3 linked regions of the Homo sapiens genome follow. The protein of the gene in region 1 purifies or fractionates together with the protein of each later gene. This does not show direct contact. Each region holds a gene or a part of one and is shown in the gene's direction. Other genes may lie near its edges.

Region 1 (3,655 bases):
TAGCACACAACTGTATTCCTAGCTTACTCAGGAGGCTGAGGCAAGATGATCTCCTTTGAACCCAGGAGGTTGAGGCTGCAGTGAGTCATGATTAAGCCACTGCACTCTAGCCTAGGCAACAGAGCGAGACCCTGCCTTAAAAAAAATAGAAAATTTATCCTAGGAATATCTGAATCATTTCCACACTTGCTCCATTCTTAGATGGTGGATATGATTGAAAGACTTCATTGAAGAGATGACTTTTCCAAAGAAATTAGGGACTGGGGCATTGAGGTGATGGGAGAGCAGAAAAGGCACTATTGATTGGAAGACCATTCCAGGCACAGGACAGGGAGTCTAGAGAATGGAAAGAGCACATCCAGGCTCCATAGTTGCAGAAACATAAGACAGGGATAGGAGGAGAACATCAAAGATCAAAATGCAAAACCATGATTATATGGCTTTTTGAATCAATTAAGAGAGAATTATATTATTTGGACACATTTTGTTTCATCAGTTCCCTTTCCATGCATTTCTTTTTTTGCTGGCATCAGCATGAACAGAAGTAATCATCCTACATTCTTTGCTTTACTGTCACTAGAGTTTAAAATGTAGAGGAATAGTTCCTCCCTAACATTTCTAGTTAAATCCTTATTCCAGAACTTAATCCTGGACTTAAGTTTAGACTGCTATGGTTCAAATTCTGTTTGTGCCACTTCTTGGCTATATGATATCTGATGAGGAATTCACTTCTCAGAGCTTTGTTTTTTTTTCATTCCTGAAATAGGATGATTACACGTCAAATGGCTCTTCTTAAATAGCTAATGGTCATGGACTACTTTGTTTATGATAAGGCACAATACCTGCTATTAATAATTATCTTAATTAGTAATTTGATATAAGAAAAAAAATTCCTGTTTTCCTCTGTAACAATTATTCTGATTGTGAACTCTATCACAGCATGCTAAAAGTCATCTATTCTGAGCTGATCTACCAAAATTGTCCCACAAACTTGGTAATCTCGTATCCTTAAGGAGAGAGAAGTTTTCTAACACTGCAGTCTGCTTCTTGTTGCTTTACCACTATTATGCTTTAGTTCTATTTGAGAGAACCCCAGTTGTGTCTTACAAAGAATGGTTGTAGGCTGTAGATGTAGCCTACAGATCTGGTCATGCTGTTACCATTACGGAGAGTCAGGAATACTGATAGTGATAGAGATATTGCACATCTGTATGTTTACGCTGGTTCTTTTATGTTTTTCAGATTGCACTCCATCACATTGCCACTGTGGAGAAGTTACCCATCACTAGCCTGGGTTGTCCCCTGACCCTCCGCTGCAAGAATTTCCGGGTGGCCCACTTTGTTTTAGATTCTGACCTTGTGTGCCATGAGGTTTATATTTCACTGCTCAAGCTTTCTCAGCCAGGTAGTTATGATAGTATTTTTATCTAAAACCATTTTAATATTTTTCCAAAATGGCATAATGGAAAGATCAGGGCTATGGAGTCAGAGGAGGGTTTGGATCTGGGCTGTACCACTTATTAGCTCCATTATATTTGGGCAAGTTATATAACCTCTGAACTCATTTTCTTTACCTGTAAAAGTAAGGAGAGTAAAAGCTCTTCAAGGGGATTGTTTTGAGCCTTGAATACCTTCATGTATTAGTATATAGTAGATGTTTAATAGATATTTTCTTCTCTCTCCTTCCCTCCTTTAAAGTATCAACTTGTGAATGTTTTCTCAGTTCAGGAAGGAAGACTGCTTTGGAAGAAAATTTGTTTCCTGCTGTCCTGCAGACTTTTTGTTTGGCCCACGATTTCCACCCCTACTTTTAATTCCAACTAGAAGACTAAGGCAGTTCATCAAAGTCCTCATTAATGTAGGACTTAATGCTTCCTCCAGCATCACCCTTTCATTCCCCAGCCCCCACCCCTAGGCAATTAACCAGCTTCCTCTGATTTTAGTCTTTGATTTTAATCATGCTCTTACATTTTCTCTCCCATTTTTCCCCTTTTCCCTCAGAGTAATTCCTCAATATTTGCTGATTTTTATTGATAAAGTTACCTGCTGGATGGCCTAGCATTTTACAAGTCTCTGATAGGCTCCATTAATCTCTGGAGAAGTTGTTGCCATATAAATTGGTCAAATGAGTTATTTGATTGGATGCTGTATCTCGTGAAGGGAGGAAGCAGGACTGACAGAGAAAAGAGAGGAAGGGGCCATTTATAAGTCAGAAGTTGCTGTTGGTCTGACAAGTACAATGCAAAAACATTGTTAAAGATGTGCAACATGTTACAATAAGCAGTACTATTAGGACATGGGAGCCCAGTTAAAAACTTTTGGTAAGGACTCTTTTCTTAACATGTGAAACCCTGAAGCCTCAGTTCAGTCAATTATCCAGCATTCTTTTTTTATAGGAAGCCAGGCAGAAAGATCCCACTTCGTATTGATAACACAAAAAATTAAAACATTTTTTCAAAGAACCCAAACAATATTCCAGTTTTTATTCCTTACATAAAGGCAAACTTGCACACACCACAGTCCTTTTCTGGGGCTGTTTGACAAACATTCCCTTAGGAAAAGGAAATCTAGCCTTTATTTGCATTGTTTGATGATTTTTAGGTTTCATTCATCATTTTGTTTTCCATGCCTATCTCTCTTCTCCAGCATTACCTGAAGATCTTTATGCTTTTTCTTATAATCCCAAATCCTCAAAAGAGATGAGGGAAAGTGGATGGAAACTGATTGACCCAATATCAGACTTTGGGCGTATGGGAATACCCAACAGAAACTGGACCATAACAGATGCCAACAGAAACTATGAGGTAATTTTGTCCTTGTTGTTTGCCTTTTGGTGCATTTAATTAAGATGGTAGAATATCAGGAAACAAGATTTTGAAAAAAGAGAGAAATGACTCATAATCTCTCTCTCCTTTCCATTCAACATTCAGCCATTCAACAGACATTTATTGAGTACCTACAGTGCAATAGGCACTGAGTAAGAGATCTCATGGCCTAAAGCATAGGGTGTTATGGGAGCATAGGTGCAGGGCATGAAAATCAGCCTAAGGAAGCCAGAAACAACCTGATGCTTTGCAGAGTAGCCTTGTGAAGGCTAATTTATTTTAACATTTTTTATTTTTAATTATTATGGATATATAATAGTTGTACATATTTATAGGGTACATGTGATATTTTTATACAGGCATACAATATGTAATGATCAGATCAGGGTAATTGGGGTATCCATCACCACAAGTATTTATCATTTATTTGTGTTAGGAACATTCCAATTCCATTTTCAGTTATTTTATTATTGTTATCTGTAGTCGTCCTGTTTTGCTACTGAATACTAGATCTTATTCCTTCTATCTAACTGTATTTTTGTACCCGTTGAGGATCCTCTTTTTATCCCCCCCACTCCACTACCCTTACCAACCTTTGGTAACCATCATTCTACTCTCTGTCTCCATGAGTTCATTTTTTTTTTTTTTTTGCTCCTACAACATGTGAATGAGATTATGCAATATTTGTCTTTCTATGCTTTGTTCATTTCACTTAATATAATGTCCCCCAGTTCCATCCATGTTGTTGCAAATGACAGGATTACATTTTTTTGTGACTGAGTTATATTCTATTGTGCATATGTACCACAGTTTTCTTTTCTTTCTTTTTG
Region 2 (3,655 bases), on another chromosome or scaffold:
TTTGCTCTGAATTTTATCTTACATAACAAAGTAAGAATGCATGGAGGTTGTTGGAGTTGAAATGATCCACCAATAATGGATAGTTTCTTATGAGTCTTGTTGCCAACAAATAATCTCCCTTTGGTCTTTTTCATTCGTTTTTCATGGTTAAAGGTAGAGAAACACTTTTTTTTTTTTTTTTTGAGAGAGTTTCGCTCTTGTTGCCCAGGCTGGAGTGCAGTGGCATGTTGTCGGCTCACTGCAACCTCCTCCTCCCGGGTTCAAGCGATTCTCCTGCCTCAGCCTCCCAAGTAGCTGGGATTACAGGCATGCACCACCACGCCCAGCTAATTTTCTATTTTTAGTAGAGATGGTGTTTCTCCATGTTGGTCAGGCTCATCTTGAACTCCCGACCTTAGGTGATCCGCCCGCCTCAGCCTCCCAAAGTGCTGGGATTACAAGCATGAGCCACCGTGCCCGGGTGAGAAACACTTTTCTGTGAGAAACACTTTTGTGTGGATTTTGTATCTCTCCAATCAGTGACACCTGGCTTTGAGACATTCTTTAGAGCAGAATATACTTAGACTGATGAGATGTAATCTTGAATCTCCTGGTTGATAAACAGGTATCTAGATTACAGTTTTTATTAAGTGAGGGCACCATTTGGCTTAGTGACAGCATCTTATGGTGGAAATAGCATTGTATTAATATTTGAGTGCTAATTCTGTCATTCAAGTGTAGTTTCACATACGGATAAGGCAAGTCCCTTTTCTCCTTCTGAAATCTTAGTTTTGTTATGTGTAAAAATGGAGAGGACAGTTGCCCCATCTACCATACAGTGTTACTCTAAAGACTGAAATTCAATATGTTTCATTTATATAGGAAAACTATGTTTTGTCAGTTGTAATAACTTACAAACATAAGTTATTGATATTTTTGAAAATAGACTCAGATATTTGAACAATAATAAGAGTTTGTAAGTGTATATGATTTGTAGTTATTTTAATAGACTTGGATTAATCCAAGGAGTAGACTTAGAAAATTAAGTACAAATACAATAGGTGCCTTTGGCATATAATTTTACATCCTATATAATCCATGCTTGCTTTAAATTTTTAAAAATTACTTTGTAGTGTTTTCCTTTTTCTTTAGTTTTTCTCCAAGAGATTCAAATCTGCTGCCATGTTAGCTGTCTTTGCTGTATCTGCTGTAGTACACGAATATGCCTTGGCTGTTTGCTTGAGCTTTTTCTATCCCGTGCTCTTCGTGCTCTTCATGTTCTTTGGAAGTAAGTATCTTGGTATGCTGTGAGTACTGGGTACTATGCTAAAAAAGAAAACCAGATAGAAAGGAAACTATAAAATCAATGTAGGAGAACTAGATAGTAGTAGTAACATTTTAAGGTAGTACTTCTTTATCAGATGGTCAGAATATTGACTTTGAATAATTATACACAGCTCTGTCTCAAGATATTTACACTTTGAAGTAGGGAAATGAACTAGGTAACCTCATGAAGACCATTGATAACACTGATTTGATAGGTCATAAAAGTTATCTATATAAACAGCTTTCCCATTCGTAAACATTGTCGGTATGCACCCCCTAGAAAACTGACAAGTTTTTGAGTGAGTAGAGAGGGAAAAGTTGGAATATGAATATTCTAATTCCATGAAATATATATACACATGTTCTGAAAACACTGATTTCTTGTAAGTTACTGATTTTAACACTGAAGCTTTATTTTTCTTTATAGAAACAGTGACCAGAATAAAAAAATATATAAACAGTTGTTGCTCACTGTGATTATTAAATAACAGCAGATACCTGAGGTCCCTCATCTTCTGATAAATTATGTTTTGATACCTGTATATTTCTTTCTTTTTTTTTTTTTTTTTTTTTTTTTTTTTTTTTTTTTTTGAGACAGAGTTTCACTCCTGTGACCCAGGCTGGAGAGCAGTGGTATGATCTCAGCTCACTGCAACCTCTGCCTCCCTGCTTCAAGTGATTCTCCTGCCTCAGCCTCCCGAGTGGCTGGGATTACAGGCACACACCACCACGCCTGGCTAATTTTTGTATTTTTAATAGAGATGGGGTTTCACCATGTTGGCCAGGCTGGTCTCGAACTTCTGACCTCTGATAACTGTATATTTCTTTGTTGCCTTCCTATTTTTAGTGGCTTTCAACTTCATTGTCAATGATAGTCGGAAAAAGCCGATTTGGAATGTTCTGATGTGGACTTCTCTTTTCTTGGGCAATGGAGTCTTACTCTGCTTTTATTCTCAAGAATGGTATGCACGTCAGCACTGTCCTCTGAAAAATGTGAGTCACCAACCTGGTTGGAGTGCAAAAGAACCTGTTTATTCTCTGTTTGTGAGAGTTGGTGGGCAATGTTGAGGAGCACAGTAGTGGAGATTATGATGAATTAGTGTTAAAGAGAGGGAAATGAGGAGTAAAAGCATTAGTTTATCATCTGATCTTATTGTACTTGAAGTTTTTCCTTTTGTTTAGTTTTCTTCACATTTAACTCTCCTAGCTTTTGGTTTTCTTCTTTTACTGCCTTTTCTTCAGCCCCTTCTAATTTTTTTTTTTTTTTTGAGACAGAGTCTCACTCTGTCGCCCAGGCTGGAGTGCAGTGGTGCAATCTCAGCTCACTGCAACCTCTGCCTCCCGGATTCAAGTGATTCTCCTTCCTCAGCCTCCCGAGTAGCTGGGATTGCAGGAGCATGCCACCATGCCCGCTAAATTTTTGTATTTTTAGTAGAGATGGGGTTTCACCATGTTAGCCAGGATGGTCTTGATCTCCTGACCTCATGATCCGCCCACCTCGGCCTCCCAGAGTGCTGGAGCCACCGTGCTCAGCCAGCCCCTTCTAAGTATTCTCCAGGGTTTTCCTAATGCCATGTATGTCCCTACTACCACCACCTAAAACATACCTTTTTTTTTTTTTAAACCTCTTTCTTCTAAATAAACTCTTGTAAAAATATTGGGCAACACTGAGATCCTTCCATTTCTCTTGATTCTATTTTTGTTTTTGGTAATTCAGGTTTCATTTATTCTTAGGACTTTAGTTTTTAGCTATACATGGGTACAGATTTTAGGAGGATGGCTTTTTTTTTTTTTAAGAATTTTATTTTCAAGTAACACAGTATAGGACATAGGAATTTCCCAGCAAACACTCTGGTTAATTTAATTGATGTGATCTGGTTAATTAGATCTACTAGCACTAGCTGAAAGTACTGCTTATAGTTATGGATAGAATTTCATGATGGAAACACCCTAAGAAGTAGGATTGCCAGGCTTTTTGTGCATATAGGGCGTGTCCTATATTTAACATTTTTGTCCTGCCTCCTGTATTGGGTTTCTTAGAACACCCCAAATGTCCTATATTCTGCTTTTTTCAGTAAATTACAAAAAATATGGCAGATAGAGCTATTTGTCTCAAGTTCATCTCGGCATCCTGTACTTGTATTTGCTAAATTTGGTGGCCCTACTAATAATTCATTCAATCCCTACAACCTTCCAGGTTTGGAGGGGATACCTTCTTGATTTATTTCCTGGGTATTTCTCATAGGCATCTGTAACTGAAGATGTCCATAATGAAATTAATCAGTTTCCTCTCCAAAGCTTCCCCTCTTTCTGTGTACCCTATGTCTGTTAGGCTGCCTCAACTCTCCCT
Region 3 (3,655 bases), on another chromosome or scaffold:
GAAGACTGGGTTGGAAACGTGAGAAATGGCTTGGATTGCCTCTGGCCTTGTGACTTGTGCCTGCTGGGAGTCAGAGCCCCTCCCCCACCACACTTACTGTCCACAGTAACTTATCGTGAGGCCTTCAGCCTTTTCCCACTTTTGCTAAAAGTTATTTCATCCATACCAGCGCCCTGACGGCAGAACTCTAGCATGCTTTCCGCTACGGGAATGCATTTTCAGCTGGGATTGTCTTGGGCTCTGAGCAGGGTGTGTTTCCCAAATCACCTGTTACGGACCGACTCCGGCAGGACAGACCGACTCCGGCAGGCCTAGCCAGCGCCTCCCTAAGTGGGTCACTGCCACACAGCTGTGTCGTGTAGGTACCATGGTGGCTTCCTGCCCTTGCTGGCTTCCCATCAGTACTCTGATTAGGTTCCCAGAGAGCCTGTCTCCACCTTACAGTGCAGGATCTACTGTGCACCTGCACATGGTTTCAGCTTTGCACATTTTTTAATGGAAGTTGTTAACTTTTAAAGGAAGTTTTTCACCATTTTCTTCAAGTGCATTGTTGCTGTGCTGATGAGACAGTAGCTGTGAGCCTTAGTGTGGCAGAGTCCTGCTCAGACGCCAGGCCACATGCCACTGGTTAGTTCTCTCCCCGGCCACAGCCTGCTTTCAGTTTGGTATCAGCCCAATGTCAGGGTAGAACAGCTAAACACCTTCTGTGTCCAAATAATGATGCTGTGAGGGTTTGTTTGTTTTTTTCCCCGTAGCCAAGGGGGTGATGTTTCATTTTTTAAACTTTTTTTTATGATAAAATATAATACAGATCGAGAAAACAAATGTAGGGCTTAATGAATTTTTATAGCGTGGTCACACTGTAACTACTGTCCAGTTCAAGAAATAAAACTGCCAGCTTCCCGTGTCCCATGCAGGGCACAGCCCGCCCTCCCTTCTCCAAGAAGGCACTTGCCTGACATTTGTGGAAACCACTTGTATTAGTCCGTTTTCACTGCTGATGAATACACACCCGAGACTGGGCAATTTACAAAGGAAAGAGGTTTAATGGAGAACTCACAGTTCCACGTGGCTGGCGAAGCCTCACAATCATGGTGGAAGGCAAGGAGGAGCAAGTCACATCTTATATGGATATCAGCAGGCAAAAAGAGCTTGTGTAGGGAAACTCCCGTTTTTAAAACCATCAGATCTCATGAGACTTATTCACTATCACGAGACCAGCATGGGAAAGACCTGTCCCCGTGACTCAGTTACCTCCTACCTGGTCCCTCCCACGACATGTGGGAATTCAAGATGAGATTTGGGTGGGGACACAGCCAAACCATATCAACTCCTTTATGTGCACTGAAGTGCACATTCCTGAGCACTATAGTTCTATATGTGTATGTGTTTATATATCTTTTAAGGCTCTTTTAACCTGCATGTTCTCCAGACATCTCTTTATCTTTCTTGCTGAAGACATAGGTGGTTTGACCTGTAGAGCTCCCCGTGGTCCAGACTTTGCTAATTGTGTCCCCGTAGTGTGGTCTACATGTTTCCCTGATTTCTCTGTTTCCTGGAAATTGGTAGTTGGGTCTGGGGACAAAATCAGTTTCAGTGTGATGTTTTTTGGGGGCACAAGAAGACCTCATAGCTGGTGGGGGCACAGAACGTCCAGTTGTCTCTCTTTGGGATGTGGTCGACCATGACAGGCAGAGCCTGGGTCCGTCCATTCCTTAGGGCTGCCAAGTGCCGAGGCTCATTCAAGCGTCCCTTCATTTTTTAACCAAGAGAAACTCACCCTCATTTATCACCTGGTTATTCAGCGGTACAGTGCATATAGGAGAGGTGGGAGAAATGCCTGATTCTTTCCTTTTATTACAGTTTTCCAAATAATGAGTTGATTGCTGATTGTCCATCAAAGATGACAAATTTGGTTTTGAGTATTGTTATGAAGTCATGAACAGAAACACATTTGATGGAGTCCCTTTGTACCAATTAAAGTGCTCATGCCGAACTAAGATTTGCTAAGCAGGACAAAGATCTGATTCTTCAATTAACTCTCTAGTGAGGTCTGACATAAATTACAGTTCCTCTTTCCCCCGTCTCTGCCTTGGCTCTCCACTCCAGGCGACCACTTTATCAAGTTCTTCGCTCCGTGGTGTGGTCACTGCAAAGCCCTGGCTCCAACCTGGGAGCAGCTGGCTCTGGGCCTTGAACATTCCGAAACTGTCAAGATTGGCAAGGTGAGTGAAAGCCCTTATTAAACTGGAAATGGACTGCTTTGGGCTGGATTAATTAGCAGAGTGGCCCATTATTCATTCCGTGTGCAAAGTCGCAAACTTGATTTATTAATTCCATTTAGTGTGCCACTTGATAATTCATTTCACCTTCACAGATGGCAGTCTGATTTTGAGTTTTGCTGGCTTTTCCACAGCCTAGAGATAAATTATGGCCTCGGCTGCTTTGTTTATTTTGAAGAGATGGCCAAATCTGAATTGGCAGCCCCAGAGCCCGTTCTGCAAAGAGATGGGGTAGAGCCTTGTAGAATGTTCACTGGACGAACTTGGAGACCGTCCACGTTCGACCTCACCCAAGAGCTCTCTCTAAAAGGACCCTGGCTCTGTGCTCCCCCAAGCACGCAGAAGACCCTCCCTCAGTTTGCACTGTGCCTGGGATTCTTTCCAGCATTTCCTACTTTATACAGAGAAGCCAAGAGTGGTGTCTGACAACTTCTGTGTAACTGGATTTTCTGGAAATATCCAGTGTAGCTCCAGGGACATCACTTTTATTCTTCTACACTTTCCAGCACCCACCAGACACCATGCATAGATTTCCTTTCTTAAAAATCTCATTTTTCTACCTTGCCATGGGGCTGATTTGTATCCAAAAGTAATGCTGCGTGTCTAGGACTGAATGATGGTTAACAGGATGATCTACTTGGGATGGTGAGATGGTCAAAAGCATAAACTTGGGGGTTGGGTAGACCTGGCTGGCTGACCTTGGGAAAAACCTCTCCACGCCTCGGTCTCCCCCTTTGCAAAACTGAGCTAAGATCTACTGTGTGGTGTCTGGGCAGATGAAAGTACACTGCTTAGTGTGATGCTTAGCATGGGGCAGATGCTTGGTAAATTGTAATCACTTTTGTTGTCAGTTAAATGGATATTTCACTGTTGCCTCTTAAACGCTTACGATAATATATACTAATTATACATGTTATTATCAGTTTATATTTATTGAACATTTCGGGGAAGTAATTATAAAATAATCTTGTCTACTGTCTTACCCCATTCCTTGTATCCTTACTTAATTATTGTATGAAATTTTATGGGAGATTCTTTTAGGTTTATATCCATAGAGGATCCTAGCAGACCTAGGCGTGAGCAGACACAAGCCCAGGTGACCACGCTGAAGCCCTTCATCCCTGGCACATGTGGCTGGGTTACACTGGACCCTTAAAAATGCTTGTCCTCTCCCGACCTTGGGCTGAGGCCTCTTGTACTTCAGTTCCGCACCTTAGCTGCTCTCTGACGGGTCTTAGGTGTTGAAATAGTATTTTTACCCCCGTTTGCTGACATAGTGAATAACAACTTAGTCCTGCCTATTTTAGTGCTGGTAGAAAATAAAAAAGAAAGCAATGACTTAGAACAAGATGTTTCATGAAAATGTTGGGCAA

What was found.
Region 2: the proteins of MTMR8 (region 1) and SOAT1 purify together in Homo sapiens (affinity purification with mass spectrometry, with the first as the bait; one large-scale study listed by BioGRID). This does not show direct contact.
Region 3: the proteins of MTMR8 (region 1) and TXNDC5 purify together in Homo sapiens (affinity purification with mass spectrometry, with the first as the bait; one large-scale study listed by BioGRID). This does not show direct contact.

The regions. Positions count from the first base shown.
Region 1 is NC_000023.11:64,353,926-64,357,580, reverse strand, and holds part of MTMR8 (phosphatidylinositol-3,5-bisphosphate 3-phosphatase MTMR8), read left to right. Parts: intron 1-1,242; coding exon 1,243-1,405; intron 1,406-2,646; coding exon 2,647-2,804; intron 2,805-3,655. UniProt on the Homo sapiens protein: Lipid phosphatase that specifically dephosphorylates the D-3 position of phosphatidylinositol 3-phosphate and phosphatidylinositol 3,5-bisphosphate, generating phosphatidylinositol and phosphatidylinositol 5-phosphate.
Region 2 is NC_000001.11:179,349,165-179,352,819, forward strand, and holds part of SOAT1 (sterol O-acyltransferase 1), read left to right. Parts: intron 1-1,131; coding exon 1,132-1,267; intron 1,268-2,152; coding exon 2,153-2,298; intron 2,299-3,655.
Region 3 is NC_000006.12:7,890,191-7,893,845, reverse strand, and holds part of TXNDC5 (thioredoxin domain-containing protein 5 isoform 1 precursor), read left to right. Parts: intron 1-2,109; coding exon 2,110-2,225; intron 2,226-3,655. UniProt on the Homo sapiens protein: Protein disulfide isomerase of the endoplasmic reticulum lumen involved in the formation of disulfide bonds in proteins. Can reduce insulin disulfide bonds.